Homo sapiens: one gene and its partners. The protein of the gene in region 2 interacts with the protein of the main gene of each other region in a biochemical or structural test. Each region holds a gene or a part of one and is shown on either strand. Other genes may lie near its edges.

What was found.
Region 1: the proteins of CLDN1 (region 2) and TJP1 form a complex in vitro, tested with the Homo sapiens proteins (2 studies listed by BioGRID and IntAct, with this or other methods).
Region 3: the proteins of CLDN1 (region 2) and TJP3 form a complex in vitro, tested with the Homo sapiens proteins (one study listed by BioGRID).
Region 4: the proteins of CLDN1 (region 2) and PATJ form a complex in vitro, tested with the Homo sapiens proteins (2 studies listed by BioGRID and IntAct, with this or other methods).

The regions. Positions count from the first base shown.
Region 1 is NC_000015.10:29,700,465-29,707,496, forward strand, and holds part of TJP1 (tight junction protein 1), read right to left. Parts: intron 5,282-7,032; coding exon 5,064-5,281; intron 3,842-5,063; coding exon 3,698-3,841; intron 1,226-3,697; coding exon 1,131-1,225; 3' UTR 1-1,130. UniProt on the Homo sapiens protein: TJP1, TJP2, and TJP3 are closely related scaffolding proteins that link tight junction (TJ) transmembrane proteins such as claudins, junctional adhesion molecules, and occludin to the actin cytoskeleton.
Region 2 is NC_000003.12:190,305,447-190,312,478, forward strand, and holds the end of CLDN1 (claudin-1), read right to left. Parts: intron 4,808-7,032; coding exon 4,723-4,807; intron 2,994-4,722; coding exon 2,831-2,993; 3' UTR 261-2,830; downstream 1-260.
Region 3 is NC_000019.10:3,711,371-3,718,402, reverse strand, and holds part of TJP3 (tight junction protein ZO-3), read right to left. Parts: intron 1-7,032. UniProt on the Homo sapiens protein: TJP1, TJP2, and TJP3 are closely related scaffolding proteins that link tight junction (TJ) transmembrane proteins such as claudins, junctional adhesion molecules, and occludin to the actin cytoskeleton.
Region 4 is NC_000001.11:62,158,457-62,164,424, reverse strand, and holds the end of PATJ (inaD-like protein), read right to left. Parts: intron 3,518-5,968; coding exon 3,371-3,517; 3' UTR 510-3,370; downstream 1-509.

The DNA of each region.
Region 1 (7,032 bases), on a different chromosome or scaffold from region 2:
CCTTGCATGTGTCATAGAAACGCTGCTTTATTGCTGCAGAGGTCAAAGTTCAAGGCTCAAGAGGTACAGGAGAGAATACAAAGGTAGCCTTTAGAAACGTGGTCTTGTTTATGTATAAAAAAGGTAAAGTTTATAAAAGTTAATTTACAAACCAAGAACAAAAGTGGTATGCACGCATTATGTACAAGCATCCTTAAAACATCAAAATTTTCAAATGCATAGCCAGAAAGAACAGAAAACCACCACTGCCCCTTGTCAAAAAAAAAAAAAAAGAAAAGAAAAGAAAAGAAAAAAATATCCCCAAATCACACCACTATTTTCTTCTGGGTGATAACACATTTCTGAAACCACCAAATGCACAACGTACTCAGTCTTTGTCATGATACAGTATCTAGATAATGCACAAAAGCCATAAAAACTTAGTAACACAAGGAGAATGAGCTAAGAATTAAGAACATGAGGGTAAGGCATTTCTGCTGGTTAGTATGTCTGTGGTAATATGGTGAAGTTAGAGATCTGAAGAGGCCATGGAACCAGTCTCACATGCTTTTGTATCCTTCCCTAAGAAAAATGTGTTTTCATGTACAGTAAGTCATTGTCTTCACTTCACCCTCCCCCAGTTGTAAATCTCCTTGCTGTACATTTCTGTTAAATCCACAACACTGGTTATATATTCCAGGTGCATTTAAAAAATGTGTGCATATTACTTCATGCATAATAAAATAAAATGTGTACGTATGCTAGGCCAGGGCCATAGTAAAGTTTGAAACAGTGTACTTTGGAAAGAACAGACCTCAAATGCACCCCCATTTACTGGCTGGTATTTTAACGGAAATCAATATGTGAAGTTAAGCAGTGACGATAAAAAAATTACAAAAATCACAAAGCAAAATATCTTTGAACCTCTAGCCAATACCAACAGTCCCGTCAATCACAAACATGCAGTGTGTAGCATGTTTTCCGACCATGGTTCAGGGGCATGCTCACTCATCTTTATCAGTTCAAACAAATGCCTCATACTAACAAACTGTAGTATCAACTCTAAAAAAGGTATAATACTTGATAGAGTGGTTCCATTTAGATTAAGTTTAATCCAGTTTCACATTATTTAAGTTCCTATATTTCAAGAGTTAAAAGTGGTCAATAAGGACAGAAACACAGTTTGCTCCAACGAGATAATTTGGATCTCCGGGAAGACACTTGTTTTGCCAGGTTTTAGGATCACCTATGAGAGAAAAGAAGTTGATGTCATTTACAGTTCAGTAAACTGCTATCCGTAATGCTTTGCAATTATAGGGCAAATACGTATATTTAGACATAATTTTCTTCTGTTTCTTCAGCATATTGAATTTGTATCAAAACACATTGCTGTATTTCAAAGCAGATCTGCTGGCATCTAACAATTCCAAAGGTGTTTCACACTTCTAAAAAAATTTTTTTTAAAACGTTCTTTCTAACTCACACCATTAAGAACAGTTTTTTGTTTTTTGTTTTTAATTTTCAGACTTCTCCTTTATTACATTATCAAGTGCATTGGCCTTTTCAAAAAATGAATACAAGTGAGTGATGGCAATCTTATGCCTGGGACAGTCCCAGTTTGCCAGAGCCCACATAATTATCAGTAGCACTTTTTTTTTTTTTCCAGTTTCGAAAGTCTGGAGGATAATTATGTGATCACCTATTTGAGCTGAGAATGAGGACACATTTCTCACACTCAACTATAAACCAACAAATGAAGCCCAGTTCTGCAGAATCTAGTTCTTGAAGACTGTCTTCCCCCTTACAAAAAACAAGCAAAAAAACGAGACTGCACCAGAGCTGCTCAGCTCTGATTCCAGCTGGACAACAAAATTAATCATGCAGCTTCAAAAACTCATTGACTGGGTGTTAGTTAGGTCTCAGGATTTAAGTTTTTAATAAGCTCTTGGTGATTTCTATTAGATGTGAAGGCAGGGACGACTATATGTCTCTGTGGTGTCCAAGCAAGCTGAGAGTCACAGCTGTGGACGTTTGCTTCCCTTACAGAAGTAGCTCTCAAACAGGAATGACCCTGCCCCTGATGGGACATCTGGAGACAGTTTTGCTTGTTACCACTGGCATCTAGGGGTAGAGGCCCAGGGAAGCTGCTAAATATTCCACGACGAACAGGAGGGCCCTACAACAATCATTTGGCCAAAATGTCAACAGTGCCAGCTGAGAACTTTGCTTACAGTACGTTAGACATTACCTAAGCAATATCTGGAGCCAAAAGCATTTCATTTTTCCAGAAAATGGGGTACTTGTAAATATGAGGAAATATGTATTTACATGTAATTTTTTCCTCTGATAACATTAAAATATGCTCTTGCTATAATCTTTAGACCACAAACTTTTATTTCATACTGTACCAAACTAAAACTAAATAATGCTCATCTGATTTATCAAAGATTTGGAAGCTAGACTTTAAATCAGGTTCGCTTAAAGTGATCTACACCCAAAATAAAATTCTAATTATTAACTGACTTAAGTCACTCAAGGAAGTGAGAAATGTGAAAATGCAGTGGAAGCTTTGAAATTATCTCAGGAGAAAAAGTCATTTACAAATAGTGTATAAAAGAAGTAATTTAGAGTATTACACTGAAAAACCATGGCCAAGTATGATCACAACGGAAGATCTTGTTAAGTTTCTCTGGTATACATACGTTGTAGATTAAGAAATTAAACAGGCCAGGCACGGTGGCTCACACCTGTAATCCCAGCACTCTGGGAGGCCGAGGCGGGTGGATCACTTTAAGTCAGGAGTTCGAACCAGCCTGGCCAACATGGTGAAACCCCGTCTCTACTAAAAGTACAAAAATTAGCCAGGCATGGTGGTGGGCACCTGTAATCGAGGCTGAGGCAGGAGAATCGCTTGAAGCTGGGAGGCGAAGGTTGCAGTGAGCTGAGATCGTGCCACCGCATTCCAGCCTGGGCGACAGAGCGAGACTCCACCTCAAAAAACCAAATCAAAACAAACAAACAAAAAATAAATTAAACAATAGTAACCAAAAATAGAAATAGTTATATAAAGGAACAAAGTCATTTTAATAAGGTAAAAATGCCTATTTGTGCAGGACAATATCTCCCACTGCATCCTGAAAAATTTGACAGAATAAATCATTTTTCTGAACACCAAGAAATAGTCAATATTTGGCCATATTATCAAAAAAAAATTTTTTTGAGACGGTCTCGCTCTGTTGCCCAGGCTGGAGTGCAGTGGCACGATCTTGGCTCACTGCAATCTCCGCCTCCCTGGCTCAAGCAATTCTCCTGCCTCAGCCTCCCGAGTAGCTGGGATTACAGGTGTGTGCCACCACGCCTGGCTAATTTTTGTATTTTTAGTAGAGATGGGGTTTCACCATGTTGGTCAGGCTGGTCTTGAACTCCTGACCTCAGGTAATCCACTTGCCTCAGCCTCCCAAAGTGCTGCGATTACAGGCATGAGCCACGGCGCCCGGCCCAAATTATCAATTTTTAAAAGGCAGAAAGTCTTCTACCTTTCCATATTTATTTACAATATATGCACCACAAATAAATGTGAAAACACTGGTGATGCCTACAAGGCCACAGGAACAGAGATAGAGATTTGCTAACACACAGCATGGGCAGCATCATCAGCCCAGGTATTAATCAACGACAGTCCCCAAAGCTCCCAAAGGACAGAGTGAAGACAGCATACCCGACGAGGAGTCGGATGATTTTAGAGCAAAAGACCAACCGTCAGGAGTCATGGACGCACAGTGTGGTAAGCGCAGCTCCACAGGCTTCAGGAACTTGAGGCCATGGGGACCACACATCACCAAAGGACTCAGCAGTGTTTCACCTGGAGTTGGAAAAGGGGATAGGCAGAGAGGATGGATGTGGTCTTTCTTCTAGAATCCCAGTTTTCCTCACCCTGCTTCTAATTATATGCTTGAAAGCCTAATGGAGTTAGTTCTCTACAGTCGCACTGACCACAAAAAAACGTAACAGCAGCCACATATGGAATCTTAAATTTCCCAGTAGCCACGTTAGAAAGTAAAAAGAAACAAGTGATATCAAATCTTACAATATTTTAATATTTTAACTCAATATAACGAAAACACTGTTATTTCAACATGTAATCAATATATGAAATCTTTGGAACTTGGTGTGTATTTCACATTTCCAGCATCTTTCAATCCCAAATTGTCACACTTCAAGTGCTAGCTAGCCACGTGCAGGCAGTGGCTACTGCATTCAATCATATGGGTCTATAATAAAAAACATATTCAAATGTGCTTGTTGCGAATGTGATATATTTTCCATTTTCAAAATGTTTTGTTTGCTCCATAGGTGGTTAAAGAGATTCATGCAGGGCCAACACAGTCAGTCCTACTGGTTTTTAAAACAGGATATCCCCAAAATCAGAGTACAGAATCAGATGTCAGTATTCCGGCAAAATACAAAAAAGCGAACTAAATTTGTTTAGGAAGTAAAAGCACTGCTAAAAGATGCTAAATCACAACACACTTCGTTATAATATCCTGGTAGATCCAGGAGGATTATGAAAATAAGTTTCCTTAAGAAGCTCAGAAACATGCTGTCATCTCCTCTGAGACTCCTTCATGCACTCTGCTGAGCATGTACTAGTGCTAGGTTCTGGGGTGATGAATAAGACAGTACCTGTCAAGAGGTTTAGGTTCTCCAATCAGGTGAAGGCACAGCAAAGCCTTTCTGAGTGGGTGTTACCTAACCCATCTCCAGAGACGCAAAGGCTGACTGATTCAAAGACAAATTTGGTTAGGTCAGCCTAGGCTGCTCAGCAGGTGAGACATCCCGTGGCCTGTCCTATGCCATCATTTTTTATTTCACACCAAAAGTAAAAGCAGGCAGTGTGGTCACCACAGCCTTGCTTCAGGCCACCCACTGCTTGCTTGCAACACCGTCCCCAGGGCACCCCTCGCTACAGCACTCATCTGGAGATAGAGAGGTGCTGCATTATTAGCCAAGCACTATAAGCTCTGAAGTGCACACAGGGCAACTCTTAAGTTATCAAAACTAAGGAGAAAAATAAACACATTTACCTTTCTCTTTATCTAAAGGTGGAAGGATGCTGTTGTCCCGGCAGACCTTGAAATAGATTTCCTGCTCAACTCCTTCGGGAATGGCTCCTTGAGGGATAATTATACTAACACCAGTTTCTATGGAACTCAGCACGCCCCCATTGCTGTTAAATATGCCTCGGGCTGTGGCCACCACAGTATGACCATCTTCATCTTCATCCTCTTCCACAGCTGAAGGACTGAAAGTTCAGAAATGGCTAGTGAGTGAATTCCTAATAATACACAGGTGCTTTGCTTTTACTACTACTGTATTACGTGCTTTCACTTTTATTTCTCCATATAATCAAGAAGTTACTTTAACAAGATAAGTTTCTGGCAACAGATTTTACTGACAGGGTTATCGCAGAGAATATTATTTCTTTTTTGTTTGTTTGTTTGGTTTTGAGACAGAGTCTCACTCTGTCGCCCAGGCTGGAGTGCAGTGGCACAATCTTGGTTCACTGCAACCTCCATCTCCCAGGTTCAAGTGATTTTTCTGCCTCAGCCTCCCATGTAGCTGGGACTACAGGCGCACGCCACCAAGCCTGGCTAATTTTTGTATTTTTAGTAGAGATGGGGTTTCACCATATTGGCCGGGCTGGTCTCAAACTCCTGATCTCGTCGTGATCCACCTGCCTTGGTCTCCCAAAGTGCTGAGGTTACAGGCGTGAGCCACCGCGCCTGGCGAGAATATTATTTCTAGAGAAATTCCATTCTAGAAAATTTCAAAAATTCTAGAGAAATGTCAAAAATTCAATTTTTGAAGGCAATTAGTCAAACGACCTTCATTAATGAATTGCAACCTGAAAGTGTAAAATCTGATGCCTTGAACACCCAACTACAGGTGAAGCATCCCTAACCTGAAAATCTGAAATGCTCCAAAATCGGAAACTTTTTTTTGAGTGTCAAAATGAAGCTCAAAGGAAATGCTCATTGGAGCATTTTGGCAATATTCCAAAATCCAAAAAAACCCAAGATATGAGACACTTCAGAACCCAAGAAGTTTGGACAAGGGATACTAAACAGGTACAGAGTTTTATGAAGCACATTTTAAAATCCATGAAATTGGAACTTTAAAACTGGTAAGTCACAATTTAATTGGTAGCCCTGTTCTTCCCTTCCTGTTGTTTTTTGAAATGGAGTGTCTTGCTGTCACCCAGGCTAGAGTACAGCGGTGCAATCTTGGCTCACTGCAACCTCCACCTCCCAGGTTCAAGCAATTTTCCTGCCTCAGCTTCTGAGTAGCTAGGATTACAGGCGTCTGCCACCATGCCCGGCTAATTTTTGTATTTTTAGTAGACATGGGTTTTCACCGTGTTGGCCAGGATGGAACTCCTGACTTCCAGTGATCCGCCCGCCTCAACCTCCGAAAGTGCTGGGATTAGAGGCATGAGCCACCGTGCCTGGCTGTTCTTCCATTTTTAGTGACACAAAACAATGGTGCATCTCACGGCTGACAGCATCTCAGACTTGATAAAATCTCCCTAGGATTTTAAGTGTGCCTGAGTATGGTCCTGCCTCAGCATTCCCTGAGGACCAAGCGCCCGCTCTGGCTGTAGGAGGCAAGGCTTCCAAGGTTCCATGAGGCGAAGACCCTTGTATGGGCATATCCCAAACATCCACGAAAGAGAGACAGTAGATTAACTTAGTAATCACAGAACGCCAAAGGCAAAGGGGATGTGGTATCAATGACTGCTTCAAAAGTAGAGGCTATCAACTTCCTGAAAGTACAGTTTTGAGCCAGGGCTCAAAGGTGAGCAGAAAGACCAACGAAACAGAATTACATGAAGGTAGCTGCCGTTTCACTCCAGCATGACCGGAGTGCCAGGGACGACATCCTACGACACAACATCAAGGGAGCAGAGCGCAGCCTGAGCTGCAGAGCAGAGGCCAGCTCTGTCCGCCCCTGACCATCTGTGGATGTGCAGAGCTAGGAAGGCAGTGACCGCCA
Region 2 (7,032 bases):
TGTATGTCCCCTTTTTATAGATGAGAAAAAGTATTAAGTAACATCTCCTGGCATCCTCTTCTATTACCACCCTTGATGAGGAACTCAATTTGAGAGAAATAGGGCATTCTAGTGGGTGGAGCCACTCAAATTTGATAGATGGGCCAGAGGCATCATAGTTCTTTCCCAGGATCATGGTGAGTCAGATCCTGTCCCAAGCCACCTCCTCTACCAAGAATGGCAATCTTGCAATAAATGATTAGAAAACAAGCCAATAATCCTTTTTTTAAATTAAAAAACAATTTATTGAAAAAGAGTAATGCTTTATACAAATTCCTATTATAAAACCCCAAAATGTCTATTGGTCTGTTTCCAGGTGTGGTAGAAGAATATAAAAAGATCAAAATTGGATAAATTCTATTGTAACAATTTCGTTGGTCATTTTGGGCCATAAAATTTTTTTGTAATGTTTGGTAACTGATATCCACATGGAATTACACTCACACATCATGAAGATCTATGTATGTGGCAAAAGCCATTTAAATTTTAACTTCCAAAAGCATATATTCTCAGGTTTGGAAGGCACACTAAAATTTATTAGGTCCAATTCCTCATAAGACACAGTGGCTGACTTTCCTTGTGTAGTTTATTATGAAGTACCATTTCCAAACTAACTATCCTAGCAGCGTCAGCTGCCAGCTAACAGCAAGAGCTCTGAGGGCATCACTGAACAGATAGCACCTTATGAGTTATTATGATTCAAAAATCTCCCTTGCTGTTGGATTTACCAACACGTAGGCTTTTATTTCTTCCCATTACATCTGTTTAGCCACAGAAAGCATCGGGCCATACTCACTGCAGAAGATAAGACTTCCTCAGAATCTTATTTGTTTAGTGCACTCAATTTTACTTCACTGTCTCATCACTTGAGAGACTGGTTAAGGCAAGAAACCCATTTCTTAACATTTTTTTTGTTTTCAAACATTTGAAAAGCAACACCAAAACGTATGCAGTTAATTCCTCAATTCTTTCCCTTAGTATAGCACTTTTTAAATTACAAAACCACACTTACATGTATTCTATCTCACTGGATCCCCACAACATCACTGTGAGGTGGGAAGATCAGGAATTACAAACCACCGCTTACAGATGAAGCAATAAGCTTACAGCAGCCAAATGCCTTGCTCAAACACAGACGGTGATTGATAGCACCAAGACTCAAATCCAGGTCTCCAGACACCAATGCCAACACCCTTTCCATTACATCATCTTGCTCAAGTGAAATAGCATTCTGTACAGACTGGAAAAGTAAGAGCAGTTGTTAAAATGGAACAGAGCACAAACATGTCAGACACAGCTGAAAGAATGGAAATAGACTGGTAGAGAGAGGAAGGCACTGAGCCACATGAAGGTATGTGCGTAGGTTTTGTTCAGTGGAAATAGACTGGTAGAGAGAGGAAGGCACTGAACCACATGAAGGTATGTGTGTAGGTTTTGTTCAGTGGAAATAGACTGGTAGAGAGAGGAAGGCAGTGAATCACATGAAGGTACGTGTGTAGGTTTTGTTCAGTGACTTCTTCAGTGTCTCAGCCAGCTGAGCAAATAAAGACACTACATAGGCATAGTTCATGTTCAAAGAATGAGAGTAATATAAACTAATTAATATTCACACTACCTCTTCTAACTGGTTAAGTATCATTATCTCAATTTGGCAGATAGAAAAAAGAGGTAGAAAGATTAAGTGACTTGCTTACAGCTACAGAGAGAATATTTGTCACCAGATTATCACTCCAGAAAGTCTAGCACTTTGTTCAGACAAACAGACCACACCTTATTAGGAAGATATAAAACGCATGATAATTACACTTGGGAAAACAATACAATTAAGGAATGGGGAACAAAAAGGTAGTTTAGGGGGATATAAAACTATGAATAAGTAGCTTAAAAATTCAATCAATAAAGTTGTGTTACAACACCTGGGGGAACAGCATGCAGCTACTCAATTGGACAAATATTTTCAAAGCAAACAAGAGTGCTATGGGTCAGAGTACAGGGATTGTGTGGGAAGGTCAACAGGAATTTATCACTTTGGTCATGCAGAAAGATTTGCCTCCAAAGTTCTGATTTGTAATAAATTCTTCTTGGCTTTAGAAACTAAAATGTAGGCTATGAAATGTGTTAGATTCAGGAGATAGAGACCAATGAAACACAAAACAAATAAGGGCTTAATAACGATGCAAGTGCTATAAGATTATGGTAAAAAATAAAATAAGTATATGAAAAGGGCACGCATGAAGAATTGAAAGAATTCATCCTTGGTAAATTAGGCTAGGTCTTGTGGCAAAGGCACCCAAAGCTAATGAAGAAGAGTAAATGATATTTGACTGTTACATATGTATATATAGACGAAAAAGAAAATATACCAATAAACATCTTCATCAATATGGAATTAAATACATTTACCTATTTTAGAGATATTTTAAGTATGCTAGTATCAACATAATGAGAATAGTATTTTACTGTCTATTTTTAATAGAAAAACATGTATATATACATATCTATATATATTTAAGGAGCACCCCTTCCCCCAGTTGAGTATGATTACTCAATGGGAAGCAGTAATACAAATGGAAAAATCTTCCCTCCTATATTGAGGAAAGAAGATAAAATAAGATTAAGCCATGTTTAGCACTGAGTATTTTAACACATGGGTTTTTTGTTTGTTTGTTTGTTTTGTAATACCATACTTCAGATTACAATACCCAAAATTCTAAGGTCCTAATGTTAATGATAGTATCTCAATGTCCATTTTCGGTTTGTTTCAACATGATTTTCTCCTTTTGCCTCTGTGTCACACGTAGTCTTTCCCGCTGGAAGGTGCAGGTTTTGGATAGGGCCTTGGTGTTGGGTAAGAGGTTGTTTTTCGGGGACAGGAACAGCAAAGTAGGGCACCTCCCAGAAGGCAGAGAGAAGCAGCAGCCCAGCCAGTGAAGAGAGCCTGACCAAATTCGTACCTAAAAGGAAAAACCCATGTGCTTGTTAATCAGTGAATTATTGGCAACTTTTCTAATATAATAAAAGGAAAAAAAATCAATACTCATTGTATTTTTTTCATTGAAAATAACCCCTGAATATCCCTTGGGAAGTACTTTAAGATTTCTGAACATACACGCCAAAGAATGTTTATATTGCAATTGGTGACAATTTGCAATAGTAGATCAGGAAATAACACATGTAATACCAGGTTAATTACACAAATAATTCCAAGGACTTTTCCATATATAGGATACTTGTAAAGCATGTTTATATGTTTTAGAAGTAGGGTTTGGATCATGGTTCCTAGGCTGAAACTTAGCAAAGGAAGCTTTATCACTAAGTAGTAATCATATTCTATAAAGAAACTGATAGAGCATAATGGAGATAATCAGAGCTTTGAACAGATGATCCATTGGTCCCAGGCACCTATACAATCTGAAATCCAAATCTTATGGTTTTGTAAAGAAAAGTTCTAAGCAGCCCATGAACCATTCTGGATTAAGCTGATCCAGGCAGATGTATTAAAGCAGACACTTAGGGTGGGGTATCTGTGAGTGATTATGGACAATACGGAAGAGTAGAGAAGGGTTGGTTCTATAAGTTATAAGGCCAAGTCTAAATCCTGATGCAGACTCTCAACTGCTGCAATTCTGGGATAGCAACTTCACCTCTCAGCCTCAGTTTCTCCTACTCTCAAAGCAGGATAATCCCACCTGCCTCAATAGACTGCTTTTAGGATCACATGCAATAATGTAAATAACAATTGCAAAATGGCTGGCAATTTATAAAGTGCTTTCCTGTGCATTACTGGTGTTATTACCTTGGCGAAATTTTAGCCTACTGACCTCTAGCAGTTTCTATTCTTACACTGTAAATCTTATGGGATGGGCTCCAACACAACCATTGCAGTATGTGTTCTCCCATATGTGGGTGATTATATAAAAAGAAACACATCTTATCTCTCCAAACACTGAGGTTTTTCATCCATTCATCTAAGCACTCAACAAACAATAATTATATTTTAACATCCTGACTGAATGTAGTTATTAGGCATTAAAGATGTGAAGACAGTGAGATGAAGAGCCTCGTCTCTGATTAAAGAATGTTGTTACACGAGAGCTAAGAATCAGCTCAACTTGCACAACCTGCAGTATTAAGAAAGATGACCTTTGTAAAGCCAATTTTACAGTTGTGAAAGAACAAAAAATTTCAAGGTGGTATCTGAACATACTAAAAACATACATAATAGCTTTACGTGTAAAAATGAACTGTTGGGAATGAAGTATTATTCATTAACCCCTATAGTAGTATAATTTTTCTCAATCAATCATAAACTGTGCATTAGTTACAAATAATCTTAGGTAGGTGTTGTAAACATCAGAATACACTTCAAAAAGGAAATTTCAAATATATTAACATCTTTATTAATATTTGAAAAAACAAACAAAAGAAAGCCCAGTTATACAGTTGAAAAGCACAGAGCTTGAAACTTTTCTACTTTGGAAGGTATTTTGTCATCAATACAGGGTGTTAAAGCAATTATCAAACTCATTTTGACATAAGTCAGAGATCATTTAAATTGTTTGTAGGTTTGACATAAAATTCTTGAAAGCAAATCTGGGAAATGATGGCACTAGCAGGACTTTGTAGAATATAAAAAGGGCATTTTCTCAGAAAACAAACTATTTTACGCCTGAATAGCGTTACCTGGCATTGACTGGGGTCATAGGGTCATAGAATTCTTGAACGATTCTATTGCCATACCATGCTGTGGCAACTAAAATAGCCAGACCTATAGAAATTCAAAACAAAAGACTGTTAATCACCATGGAACACTGAGCCTAAATACACAACCTGTTAAACCAAAACATATTTTGCAAGAATTAAATCTCATCAATAGTGTTGACATTTTTATTTTGGTATTAGGGAGATTAGAAGTCCAGATATGATTTATTCCAAGTATCTATTAAAATATAAAAAAATACTAGGTTGGCATTAGACAAAATTTATACTTTTTTATGATATCTTGGCACAAATAATTCTTTTTTGGAAACAATTAGGCAGGTGTATGTTGTACAAAATCTCTTTTAAATATGCTGTTATACATTAGGATACTAAACTACATTTGATAAAACTATTGTCATTATTAGTACAGGTAGAATTACTTGCAAAAGGGGAAGATGAAAACTCTTCTATGTTCTTGATCAAACTCAAAATTTACATTTCTGCAGAGTCAAAAGGAATGCAAGCAGCTAGATAGAGTGAGATCAGGACATGTCTCAGAATGGACCAGAATACCTGCATTACTACTGCCCCATTGGCCAAGGGAATACCTGATATAGGTATAGGTTGGCCTGAGATTTGTTGAGGGTGCCACATCAGATCAATTTATGCAACCCAATCTCAATTTCCCATGGCATTTTATATTCAATGATAGCAGAGAAATCATTTAGTCAAAATCATTCACTTAATCATTTATAAGATGTATAAAATACTTCATTTTTTTATCAAAAAAGTTAAATAACTTTTTTGTAGTAATTCTAAGTATTCATCAATATAGATAGATTAGATGTTTCTATGCTACTGTCTCTCCCCAGCCAAAAACATGGTCCAATGTAATTGCCTCTAGACATGACAGAAAACACTATTGCTTTTGGCTTCTCAAATAGACCATGCGAATGGTCTTGAACTTGTGATGCTTACTCCTAAGAGAAGTCCCTGAAACTGGAATAGGAGTGATGCAGTCACATGTGGGAGTTACAAGAAGGCAAGCGAAGGAAGAATGCAATGCATTTCATCCTCATCGTCTTCCAAGCACTTCATACACTTCATGCCACGATGGCCACAAAGATTACTATTCGCAGCCTTTGATATAAGAGTAAATTATTGGGAATAAGACACTATCCATGCCTTTTCAGAGAGGAGTCAATTTGTATTTGGGTAAACTGAGAGACTGGTCATTTTAAACTAACCACATCTTTAGCAAAGCCACAGATACTCTTCCTCAATTACTGGTTAAACTGACATATTATACTGAAGCAAAAGCCCCTACAAGTCTTCTGTCAAAAAGAAAATAAGAAAATAAAGTCTATTCTAGTTTTTTTCTATTAGTAGATTTGTATCATTAATTATATCTGTTATTTTTTTAAAATAATATACTATAATATACTACATATATAATATATGCATCTAATACCTAATATAGAGAACATATAGTAGTCTATTATTATAGCTGTATAATTTATATGGAGATTATCAACATATATAACACAGTGTATAGATATAAAGATATATATATACACACAGAGAGATTGCATATGTATGTACATATACACACGTAAGTATACATACACTATAATTTTTTAAATAGGCATTATTATAAAGCTTTGAAATAATGCTGTCCATGTTTTCTGACTTTGATTTTCTCAAATGACACATAATGTAACTTATCAATCAACACTTGAATTAAAAAACAGATATTTCTTTTCTTTTCTTTTTTCTTTTTTTTTTAGACAGTCTTCTGTTGCTTAGGCTGGAGTGCAGTGGTGCGATCTCGGCTCCCGAGTTGAGGTGATTCTCATGCCTCAGCCTCTGGAGTATATGGGATTACAGGCGTGCACCACCACACCCAGCTAATTTTTGTGTTTTCAGTAGAGATGGGGTTTCACCATGTTGGCCAGGCTGGTCTTGAACTCACGACCTCAGGTGATCCGCCCTCCTCAGCCTCCAAAAGTGCTGGGATTACAGGCGTGAACCACCACACCTGGCCTAAAAAACACGTATTTATTTTAAATGGAAAATATAATATTATTTTATCAAAAAAATTTAAAGGTATTTCTGTATTTTTTTTTTCCTAACTGCTTTAAACTGACCATTCCAACAGGCCACCTCTACTCCAGTTGGCCTTTCTTTTCATTGATCTACAGGCACATCCTGTTTATTCTCGAATTAGATCTGCCCAGCTGGAATGCTATCCTTATTTTTCTCCAATAATCCCAATCCTTCCATCCCTCACAG
Region 3 (7,032 bases), on a different chromosome or scaffold from region 2:
GTCTTTAAAATAAGAGGCTTGGCCAGGAACAGTGGCTCACGCTTGTAGTCCCAGCACTTTGGAAGGCCGAGGCGGGAGGATCTCTTGAGGCCAGGAGAGACCAGCCTGAGTAACAGAGTGAGACTTCCATCTCTACACACACACAGACACACACACACACACACACACACACACACACACACACACACACTTTTTTTTTTTTTTTTTTTTTGAGTTGGAGTCTCGCCCTGTTGCCCAGGCGCAATCTCAGCTCACTGCAAGCTCTGCTTCCCGGGTTCACGCCATTCTCCTGCCTCAGCCTCCCGAGTAGCTGGGACTACAGGCACATGCCCGGCTGATTTTTGTACTTTTAGTAGAGATGGGGTTTCACCGTGTTAGCCAGGATGGTCTCAAACTCCTGACCTTGTGATCCGCCCCCCTCGGCCTCCCTAAGTGCTGGGATTATAGGCGTGAGCCATCGTGCCCGGCCTTTTTTTTTTTTTTTAATTAGCCAGTCTTGGTGGCACTTGCCTGTACTCCCAGCTACTTGGGAAGCTGAGCTGGGAGGATTGCTTGAGCCCAGGCGGTGGAGGCTGCAGTAAGTCATGGTCACACCACTGTACTCTCATTCCTGGGCAACACAGTGAGACCCCCATCTCCACATCCACAAAAATTTTTAAAAATATCTTAGGCAGGGTGCAGTGGCTCATGCCTGTCATCCCAGCACTCTGGGAGGCCAAGGCAGGAGGATCACTTGAGTCAGGAGTTGGAGGCCAGCCTGGCCCACAGGGCAAAACCCATCTCTACAAAAATACGAAAAATTAGCCAAGGATGGTGGCAGGCGCCTGTAATCCCAGCTACTCAGGAGGCTGAGGCAAGAGAATCACTTGACCCTGGGAGGCGGCGGTTGCAGTGAGCTGAGATCACGCCACTGCACTCCAGCCTGGGTGACAGGGCAGACAGCACAACACTATGTTTCAAAAAAAAATAAAATTATATATATATATATATATATATAAGCTATGGCTGGGCACAGTGGCTCACGCCTGTAATCCCACTTTGGATGGCCAAGGCGGCCGAATCACTTGAGGTCAGGAGTTTGAGACCAGCCTGGCCAACATGGTGAAACTCTGTCTGTACTAAAAATATAACAGTCATGGGCCAGGCGTGGTGGCTCGTGCCTGTAATCCCAGCACTTTGGGAGGTCGAGGCGGGCGGATCACCTGAGGTTGGGAGTTCGAGACCAGCCTGACCAACATGGAGAAACCTCGTCTCTACTAAAAATACAAAATTAGCTGGGTGTGGTGGCACATGCCTGTAATCCCAGCTACTAGAGAGGCTGAGGCAAGAGAATTGCTTGAGCCCGGGAGGCGGAGGTTGCAGTGAGCCGAAATCGGGCCATTGCACTCCAGCCTGGGCAACAAGAGCGAAACTCCGTCTCAAAAAAAAAAAAAAAAGTCACCTGGGCGTGTTGGCACCCGCCTGTAATCCCAGGTACTCGGGAGGCTGAGGCAGGAGAATCACTTGAACCTGGGAGGCAGAGGGTGCAGTGAGCCGAGATCGTGCCACTGTCTCCAACCTGGGCGACAGACTGAGACTCTGTTTCAAAAAAAAAAAAAAAATATATATATATATATATATATGTATGAGCTGGGTGTGGTAGCAGGCACCTCTAGGCGCTGAAGTGGGAGGATCATTTGAGCCCAGGAGGTCGAGGCTGCAGTGATCCATGATCTTGCCCTTGCACTCCAGCCTGGGTGACAGAGCTAGACGCTGTCTCAAAAATAAATAAAGAAATAAGTGGGTTAAAGTCCTAGCAGTGAATGGGGCTCCCGGGCCATGTTTACTGGCATATGCTTGGCTGCAGCCCCAGTTACACACAACACTCGTGCGCCCACTTTGCAGCTGAGAAAACTGAGGCCAGATGGTGAGCTGGCCTGAGGGATTTGGCTGCAGCTCTGTTTGCCCCTGCACCTCGAACTCCAAGCCAGTGCCTCTCACCAGAGGGGGACCCTTGGCAACGTCTTGAGACATTTTGGTGTTCAATACCAGGCCGAGCGCGGTGACTCACACCTGTAATTCCAGCACTTTGAGAGGCTGAGATGGGCGGATCACTTGAGGTCAATAGTTCGAGAGCAGCCTGGCCAACAGGGTGAAACCCCGTCTCTACTCAAAATACAGAAATTAGCTGGGCGTAGTGACAGGCACCTGTAATCCCTGCTACTCGGGAGGCTGAGGCAGGAGAATCACTTGAACCCGGGAGGCAGAGGTCGCAGTGATCTGAGATGGCGCCACTGCACTCCAGCCTGGGCAATGGAGCAAGACTCCATCTCAAAAATAAAACAAGTCGGGCGTGGTGGCTCACGCCTGTAATCCCAGCACTTCGGGAGGCTGAGGTGGGTGGATCACGTGAGGTCAGGAGTTCGAGACCAGCCTGGCCAACATGGGGAAACCCCATCTCTACTAAAAATACAAAAATTAGCCGAGTGTGGTGGTGGGTGCCTGTAATCCCAGCTACTCGGGAGGCCGAGGCAGGAGAGTTGCTTGAACCCAGGAGGCAGAGGCTGTAGTGAGCCGAGATTGCGCCATTGCACTCCAGCCTGGATGACAAGAGCGAGACTCCAACTCAAAAAAATAAAATAAAATGAAACAATAAAAAAATAAACCTGGAAGGTTCTCCTGGCATGAGTGAGTGGAGGCCAGGGATACTGCTAAGCACCCTGCATTGCCCAGAATGGCCCCATCCCAGAGAAGGATCTGGCCCCAAATGTCAATGGGCAACGCAGAGAAATCCCACTGTCAACCCCTCTAAGAGAGGAAGCTGGATAACTGCACCAGGACACATTGTCTTCCTCCAACCACCCACCGTCTGCTCTCATATCCATGCCCTGCTCAAGAACACTCGATGGCTCCCTAGTACCATCCTCCAAACCTGGGTTCAAATCCAAGGCTTTGGAGATGGGCATAGCCTTAAGCCCCTTATTCCCACCACCCCTGACCTTCGGATCACCTTAATGAATTAAAAACCTGCTTTTGGCCGGGCGCGGTGGCTCACACCTGTAATCCCAGCACTTTGGGAGGCCGAGGCGGGCGGATCACGAGGTCAGGAGATCGAGACCATCCTGGATAACACGGTGAAACCCCATCTCTACTAAAAATACAAAAATATAGCTGGGTGTGGTGGCGGGCGCCTGTAGTCCCAGCTACTCGGGAGGCTGAGGCAGGAGAATGGCGTGAACCCGGGAGGCGGAGGTTGCAGTGAGCCGAGATTGCGCCACTGCGCTCCAGCCTGGGCGACAGAGCGAGACTCCATCTCAAAAAAAAAAAAAACCAACCAACCAAACAAACAAACAAAAAACCTGGTTTTCTACTGTTGCCTCACGAAGTAAAAATAATAATAGCAAAAAGAAAAGGAAAAAAAGAGAAAATCTGCTTTTCAGCAATCTACTTCATTTGTGCCTTAATTCTTCTGTGCATTCAGTCACTCAGTCAACAAAACTGTTGCAAGCCAAGTATATGACGTGTGATTGGGAACCAGCGTTCAGGGCCAGTGTGATCTGAGCAGGGTGAGGGACAGGAGGACCCAGGGAAGGTGGAGTTCTGGAGGCCTCCCTGGGATGAGCCAGCTCAACCCCTTCTGAGTGCTTGTGGGAAAACTGAGGCCCAGAGATAGCAGGGGCTGGGCTGAGGTCCCCCAGTGGATCAGGGCCAGGATGGTCTCGAACTCTGACCTCGTGATCCGCCCGCCTTGGCCTCCCAAAGTGCTGGGATTACAGGTGTGTGCCACTGCGCCTGGCCTAATTGTACTTTTTAGTTACATATGCGATTATTCAATTATTGTCTGTCTCCCCTAAAGACTGTGGGCTTCCACTGTGTCTGTCAATCAGTTCTTCTGCAGCCCCATCACTGTGTATGCAGTACGTGCTCAATAAATACTAAAAGAACGGGCTGGGCGCGGTGGCTCACATCTGTAATCCCAGCACTTTGGGAGGCCAACGCGGGTGGATCACGAGGTCGGGAGTTTGAGACCAGCCTGGCCAAGATGGTGAAACCCTGTCTCTACTAAAAATACTAAAATTAGCCAAGCGTAGTGGCACGTGCCTGTAATCCCAGCTACTCAGGGGGCTGAGGCAGGATCATGAGGTCAGGAGTTTGAGACCAACCAGGCCAAGATGATGAAACCCTGTCTCTACTAAAAATACAAAAATTAGCCGGGTGTGGCGGCGGGCTGCTGTAATCCCTGCTACTCAGGAGGCTGAGGCAGGAGAATCTCTTGAACCGGGAGGCAGAGGTTGCAGTGAGCCAAGATTGCGCCACTGCACTCCAGCCAGCCTGGGTGACAGAGAGAGACTCTGTCTCAAAACAACAACAAAGAAATTAAATAATAGTAATAATAATAGGCCGGGCGTGGTGGTTCACCCCTGTAATCCCAGCACTTTGGGAGGCCGAGACAGGTGGATCACGAGGTCAAGAGATGGAGACCATCCTGGCCAACACGGTGAAACTCCGTCTCTACTAAAAATACAAAAAAAAAAAAAAAATTAGCTGGGCATGTTGGCGGGCGCCTGTAGTCCCAGCTACTCGGGAGGCTGAGGCAGGAGAATCACTTCAACCTGGGAGGCGGAGGTTGCAGTGAGCCGAGATCGTGCCACTGCACTCCAGAGCCTGGGCGACAGAGCGAGACTCTGTCTCAAAAAAAGAAATAAATAAATAATAATAATAATTTTAAAGTTACAGAAAAGTAAATACACAGAGAATTCCTTTATACACCCAACTGATTTCCACTAACATTAACATTATTACACGGGTACATATGTCAAAACCAAGAAGTCAACATCAGTACAACCTTGTTCACTGAACTCCACACTTTATTCACGTCTCTCCGCAGGCCCTTTGCCGCCCCAGGGCCCCATCCAGGATCCCACCTGGTAGTTGGCTGTCACGTCTCCTTAGACACCGCTGGGCTGTGACCGATTCTGTCTTTCCTGTTCTGTGACCTGTTAGTCTGTGCTGGGCAGGTCTTTTGCAGAATAACTCTCAATGTGGGGACATTGGGGACCAGCTGTTTCCCTCATGACTAGACTGGCGTCATGGGTTTTGGGGGACCCTGGGAGGTTTTAAGGAAGCCGTGTGGAGAGGACGGGGCAGGAGCAGAGACAGAGAGCAGAGATGGAGGGCAGCCAGGTGGGAGGAGACGCCCCGGTCTGTGGGTTGCCAAGATCCAAACGACCTTTGAGGAAGGGCAGATTCTAGGTGTGGCCGGCTCAGCCCTAAGGCACTGGAGGGCTGAAGAACGTCTCAGGGTTTGGCGTCCTGGGGAGGCTGGAGGACCTCATGGGGGGCACTTTGAAGTAGGACTCATGGGGGGCACTTTGAAGTAGGAGGAGTGTGGAACCTGCTAGAAGCTTGGAGTATGGAATGCAGCTCAGGGTGTTCAACAGGGGACTTTCTTTTCTTTTCTTTTTTTTTTTTTTGAGACAGAGTCTTGCTCTGTCACCTAGGCTGGAGTGCAGTGGTGCAATCATAGCTCACTGCAGCCTCCACTTTCCTGGGCTCAAGCGATCCTCCCACCCCAGCCTCCTGTGTAGCTGGGGCCACAGGTGCACGCCACCCTGCCCAGCAGATTTTTGTATATTTTGTAGAGACGGTATCTCGCTATGTTGCCCGGACCTGTCTTGAACTGCTGGGCTCATGCGATCCTCCCACCTCGGCCTCCCAAAATGTTGGGATTCCAGGCGGGAGCCACCAAGCCATGCCAAAGATGCCATTTCCCCCAAAAGGGAGGACGGCTGAGCTCTAGAAGGAAGTTCCACAGCAGAGAGAGAAAAGCAGAGCCCATGTGAATTCCAGCCCCTGCCTCAGCTTCCTCATCTGTAAAACGGGGATCCCGGTTTTGACCCTGAGCAGTATTTCAGGGAAGGCTCAAAGGTTTAAGCATCTGCCACTAAGGATCCCCTGGGCTGCCTCTCCATGCTTCTAACTCCACTCGGGCCCCCAGTGGGAAAGCCAAAGGTGAATTACAGTGTCCCAGGGCTAGAGGGGGCCCCCTGCCCCATGGAAACCATCTACGCTAAGGTGCTGTCATTCTGGGCACGGAATGACATTTTTGAGATGGAGTCTTGCTCTGTCTCTGGGGCTGGAGTGCAGTGGTGCGATCCCGGCTCACTGCAACCTCTGCCTCCCAGGTTCAAGCAATTCTCCTGCCTCAGCCTCCCAAGTAGCTGGAATTATAGGCACACGCCAACACACCTGGCTAATTTTTGTATTTTTAGTAGAGACAGAGTTTCACCACGTTTGCCAGGCTGGTCTCAAACTCCTGGGCTCAAGTGACCCACCTGCCTTGGCCTCCCAAAATGCTGGGATTACAGGCGTGAGCCACCGTGTCTGGTCCAGAGGAGAACTGAAAGAACACACACACACAGGCAATCAAGAATGCTGAGGCCGGGTCGGTGGCTCTCGCTTGAAATCCCAGCACTTTGAGTGGCTGAGGCTGGCAGATCACTTGAGCCCAGAAGCTCGAGACCAGGCCGGCCAACACAGCAAAACCCCATTTCTATTTTCAATTTTTAAAAAAAAGAAAGAAAGGAAACAAATTAATTCCCCTCTGTATAGGCTATAAAGTCTTACCGGTTCCCATATTAATTAATGAATTAAGCAGACACATAAAGCACCTTTTTTTTTTTTTTTGTACTTTTAGTAGAGACAGGGTTTCACCATGTTAGCCAGGCTGGTCTTGAACTCCTGACCTCGTGATCCACCCGTCTCGGCCTCCCAAAGTGCTGGGATTACAGGCGTGAGCCACCGCATCCGGCCTCATTTTGTATTTGTATGAGAGTAATGATTTTACTATTTTGGGAAAAAATATCCTTTAATATCATAAAGCCAAATGTCTTCAGGCCAGCATTTAAAGCTCTCCCTTCATTTTGGCCGGACGCGGTGGCTCACGCCTGTAATCCCAGCACTTTGGGAGGCCGAGGCGAGCGAATCACCTGAGATCAGGAGTTCGAGACCAGCCTGACCAATACGGTGAAACCCTGTCTCTACTAAAAATAC
Region 4 (5,968 bases), on a different chromosome or scaffold from region 2:
GAAGGGGAAACTCACACAGAGTCCACGAGTAGAGGAGAAAGAGATTCACGTTCAGGGAGGCCAGCCAAGTTGGCTAGAACATGTAGTGTCTGGAAAGGAGGGAGCTGTAGGTTGACAGAGCCATGGAGATCGCCTCTTTGTCAAATACTCACCTGCACATGCATGAAAGGGCCAGGAAAGAAACATTAGAGGTTGGCTGGGCATGGCGGCATGGATCCTGAGCCACTGCGCCCATCCTAATTTTTGTATTTTTAGTAGAGACAGGGTTTTGCCATGTTGGCCAGGCTGGTCTTGAACTCCTGACCTAGGTGATCCATCTGCCTCGGCCTCCTAACGTGTTGGGATTACAGGCGTGAGCCACCATGGATTCCAGATTTTAACAGGACACCAAAAAACCTTGTGAAAAGTTGGACTTTTTTTTTTTTTCTATTAGGGAAGAAAATGCTGAAGAAAAAGCACAATTAGATCCAGAAAGTACACTTTTTCATATATAATAAAACTCCATTTGCTCTGTAGGCAACTACATTTATTTAGAATCTTTGGAAATATCTTACACATACAAACATTCAGCAGTTTTATTCTTCCTGGCTTACTTCCCTCTCATGCTAATTCCGATTAGTGATATCATTACTATACTGAAATGGCCCAAATGATGAGGCCAAATATAAGAGCACTACTTCTTTCACAAATTTCCATCTTCATAGCCTCTCAGCTTGTCAGTAAGTTCTGAGGCAAAAATATCTTTTTGGAAAGGCAATTACGTATTAGTCATGTGAGCGGAGACAGAACCGATTATGACAAGTACTAGTTCTATCAATTTAGTGCAGTAAGAAGTATAAAGCATCATAATTCCTTCATCAATATACTTTTACTAGCACGACCTAAAAGGATAATGTATAAAGAAACACCACAACAATGTATTATCTCAAAATGTGTATTTAATGGCCATTCCATCAAAATAAAGCAGAATCCCATTTCAAAACTATTATATGTATATATATTTTTAAGGTGCATTTTCAAGTTTTATTTGGGTTTCATTTCTTCTTGGCTTGCCTGAGGTGTTCTTGCAGGTACAATTAACACAAAATGTTCTGAGGGTAGTAGCTTTTCATGCACTGAAGAATGAGATCCTAACAACATTGCACATCTTGGATACATTAGAAATTTTAAAAGCCATGTGTAATTTCAGAAAACTTAATACCGTCATGAAAGACATTTTCAACACAAAATTTAGGCACTCTATACTTTGGAATAGCCATAAAATATTCCAACAAGAGTTAATGCACTTTGTGATTACATCTACTCAAAGATAATTCTCAATTAAAATCTATACTTATTAAATAACATTTTAAATTAGAGCCCATTAAATTTTGATAATTACTGTGAAATATTTGCAGCATTGTGTTGTAGTTAAATAATGCTGAACTACTTCTATTACTGACTCTAGTACTCATCCTTCATGGTTTTTTTTCTTTTTCGAGACAGAGTCTTGCTCTGTCACCCAGGCTGGAGTGGAGTGGCACGAACTTGGCTCACTGCAACCTCCACCTCCCAGGTTCAAGCAATTTTCCTGCTTCAACCTCCGGAGTAGCTGGGATTACAGGCGCCTGCCACTGCACCCAGCTAATTTTTGTATTTTTAGTAGAGACAGGGTTTCACCATATTGGCCAGGCTGGTCTCGAACTCCTGACCTCATGATTCGCCTGCCCTGGCCTCCCAAAGTGCTGGGATTACAGGCGTGAGCCACTGCACCCGGCCATGGTACTTTTAAAAACAGAGGACTCTATAGCATCCACCAGTAAGCATCTCTCCCTTTTTCTTGCTAATATATGAATAAGATTGCCAATAATCAACTTAAAGGTATTCTTGTATTTTCTGCTGTAGTTGATTTCTTAGCATGCAAAACTTCAGCAAATGGGAGTCTCCTTGGAGATCAGGAAACATCAGCCATGCATTTTCATCACATATTCCTAGGCTCAATTCATTTGCTCACTTTGCAGCTAAGTATGTTGCTCCCTTAGGTTCTTGCAGTCCATGCTGCTGGCCTGACTACTATGGAGGTAAAGGGAAATATAATCAAATATGTCACCCACTTTGCATAAGGCCAAGGCCACCTAGACCTTGTCTGACTTGAGACAAAACTTGCTGATCTCTGCCGTGTGGTTCTGGGGCTTCTACCTCCTTTTCCTAAGACCGAGGGGTGGGAATGATGCCTGCCAACTGAAATGCCATTAATTCCAGGTGATCTTCCTGGACTTGAATGTAATTTAGCACTGTTAGAATTCAGAACATGTATGCTAGTTGTTCCTGCTGAGAATAAGGTTCATTTGCTCAGTGGTATGCATTTATATGGCACAGAAAACAATTAGTCTTTCAGAATTTTTAGAAGATTACAGTCTGTAAATTGACTCATCAAAATCACCAATGACTAGCATATAAAGATCTATCCAGAGAAATGAATTTGAGACTTATTTGACCATAAGTCATACAGAAGACAGCACAGTAATTTCCCATAGGAGAATCTGGTATTTCATCTTGGGGATCACTGGTAAATTAATTACACTGCTAATGTTTTCTTGCTTACTTGAAGAGACAATTAGCATAAGTAAATCATGAGTGAGATGACAAGTTGCTTAACATTTGTTTCTGTCCATTGGATGAGATCTGAGGTTGCTGTTAAGCCTCGGTGTGAGTAGGGGATAGGGAGAGAAGAGTATAAGGAAAGAGAAGTTAACTCCAGTTTTGGTAAATATAATCAGAACCAGTTGGTTAAAATCAGAATACTGGGCTGGGCGCAGTGGCTCACGCCTGGAATCCCAGCACTTTGGGAGGCCAAGGCAGGCAGATCACCTGAGGTCAGAAGTTCAAGACCAGCCTGGCCCACATGGGGAAGCTCCATCTCTACTAAAAAAACAAAAATAAACCCAGTGTGGTGATGCATGCCTGTAATCCCAGCTACTCGGGAGGCTGAGGCAGGAGAATCGCTCCAACCTGGGAGGCCGAGGTTGCAGTGAGCCAAGATTGCGCCATTGCACTCCAGCCTGGGTGACAGAGTGAGACTCCGTCTCAAAAAAAAAAAAAAAAAAAAAAAAAGAAATCGGAACACTGAAATTAAATGCAAAACAGGTAGACTCATTTAAGTTTTAGAAATCAACCTCGCCAACAGGTGACAGGAACTGGGAAACATTAGGAGATGATTGTTGATTTGGGAAATTCACATGAAACCTCAGCCATTTCTCCTGAGCAGAGAGGGCAAGAAATAAGAATGAAGGTGCATTTTAGTTGAGGGTGCTTTTCATACCCACTCAGAACTTCATCTGCCTGTGGATATTCTAAACAACAACATCTATCTTGTGATCAGGCCCGAGGCTCATGACAGCACAGTTAAGGTTACAGTCCCTCTCTGGTGTTTTAGAATGGCGACTGCTTGCTCATGAGTAACACCTTCCAGGGTCTCGCCATTAACAGCTAAAATCTGATCCCCTCGTTTTAATCGGCCGTCATCTGCAGCTGCTCCCTACAAACAAGAAACATTTCAGTTTAATCCAGGGTAAAACACAGTTTATATTAAATTGATATTAAAACCTCTAACATCTGTCTGGTGTGCATATTAAAAGAGTAACTTTAAAAACTACCAATTAAGTTTTTTCTAGGTAATGTTTTAAATTAGGAAAAAAGTAAGATATGCTGTTTGAATAATAATGGTTGAATAGTAACTATAATTATGGATAATCTAAATAACATACTAGTAGAAATGTACTGATACACTGCTTTTAATACAAGTAGAACCTTATTTCACTATTTAGTATTAAATGGAATTGGATGTCATATCATGTCCTATTCATGAAAACGTAATATACAGAAAAAGGCAGATAGAACTGAATCTGGTGTTAGTCTTACTGCAAATACCACCATTATACAGAGTTCCCATTGCATTATTAAGCTATCAGCACTGTGATCTGTCAAAAATAAGTGTAGTCTTTAAATGGGTGAATTGTATGGTAAGTGAATTATATCTCAATAAAGCTGTTATCTACATATAAATATATACGAGTGTAGCATCTCTAAAATTTTGTAATATATTCAAAACCTTCCACTTTATCTTTGATCATCTAAATAGGTTTCTAAATGACTACTTTTATTATATACTCAGTCATGCATAGTTCCTCAAAACGGCACAAAGCCAGTGAAACTTCAGGGTTTTTTCACTCTAAAGCTGCATATCTAAAAATGCCACGATATTACTAGAAACATTTTGGACTGGTAAGGGAAGAAAAGACCTTAAAAAATGATTTACAGGAGGTTTCACCATCTGTAGGGGTAACTGTTTCAGTCCCTTGAAAAGTCAGTGCCAGAAGAATCCTCTAAATGAGGTCAAACTTCAGTGGGCAACCAAAGCCCACAGGCACTTGGCCCTCGACCGACTCAATCAGAAGCCGAGCTAGGAGGCACTAACGCTCCTGAGATCTGTGTCCATGTGCAGCTTGGAGGTCCTGAGGTGCTGGGGAATCAGACAGGTTTTCTAAACCGTGAGAATGGTGGAATTTCTAAATGAATGTGCAATAAAGAATATTCAAAACCTGCTGGGTGCAGTGGCTCATGCCTGTAATCCCAGCACTTTGGGAATCTCAGGCGAGAGGATTGCTTGAGCTCAGGAGTTTGAGACCAGCCTGGGCAACATGGTGAAACTGTCTCTACAAAAAATTAGCCAGGCGTGGTGGCTTATGCCTGTGGTCCCAGCTCCTCGGGAGGCTGAGGCAGGAGGATCACTTGAACCTGCAGAGGTTGGAGTGAGCTGAGATAGTGCCACTGCACTCCAGACTGGGTGACAGAGTGAGCTCTGTCTCAGGAAAAAAAAAAAAAAAAAAAGTATTCGAAATCAGGTCTATACTGTGGGCAAAATATCAAAACTAAATATTAATAACTTGCAACTGGCTGGACATGGTGGCTCATGCCTGTAATCCCAGCACTTTGGGTGGTCAAGGCAGGAGGATCACCTGAAATCAGGAGTTCAAGATCAGACTGGCCAACATGGTGAAATCCTGTCTCTACTAAAAATACAAAAATTAGCTGGATGTGATGGCGCATGCCTGTAATCCCAGCTACTTGGGAGGCTGAGGCTGGAGAATCACTTGAACCTGGGAGGCGGAGGTTGCAGTGAGCTGAGATCATCCCATTGCACTCAGCCTGGGCAAAAAGAGTAAACTCTGTCTCAAAAATAAACCCCAAAACTTGCAACTTCACTCAAATCTTTTAAGAAAGTAATGTGTCAACTGTATTAAAGACAAAATTAAACAAGTAATTTTACTGGATAAAATCAGAATTACTAGGCAAAGTTGATTTTATTAAATTTTACATGCTAAGATTTAAGGGCTTCAGTAAATCTCAGATATCTGTGTAAATTAATTTTTTAAAAACTATGTTAAGCTATTTATCTTTTTTAGTAATGCAAGGAAAGAATTTTTAAATTTTTTTGAGAAGGAGTTTCACTCTTGTCGCCCAGGCTGGAGTGCAATGGTGCGATCTCGGTTCACTGCAAACTCCACCTCCCAGGTTCAAGCGATTCTCCTGCCTCAGCCTCCCAAGTAGTTGGTATTACAGGCGTCTGCCACCAGGCCCGGCTAATTTTTGTATTTTTAGTAGAAACAGAGTTTCACTATGTTGGCCAAGCTGGTCTCGAACTCTTTTTTTTTGTTTTTTTTTTGAGACAGAGTCTCGCTCTGTCGCCCAGGCTGGAATGCAGTGGTGCAATCTCGGCTCACTGCAAGCTCTGCCTCGCCGGTTCACACCATTCTCCTGCCTCAGCCTCCCGAGTAGCTGGGACTACAGGCGCCCGCCACCACGCCTGGCTAATTTTTTGTATTTTTAGTAGAGACGGAGTTTTTTACCGTGTTAGCCAGGATGGTCTCAATCTCCTGACCTCGTGATCCGCCCACCTTGGCCTCCCAAAGTGCTGGGATTACAGGTG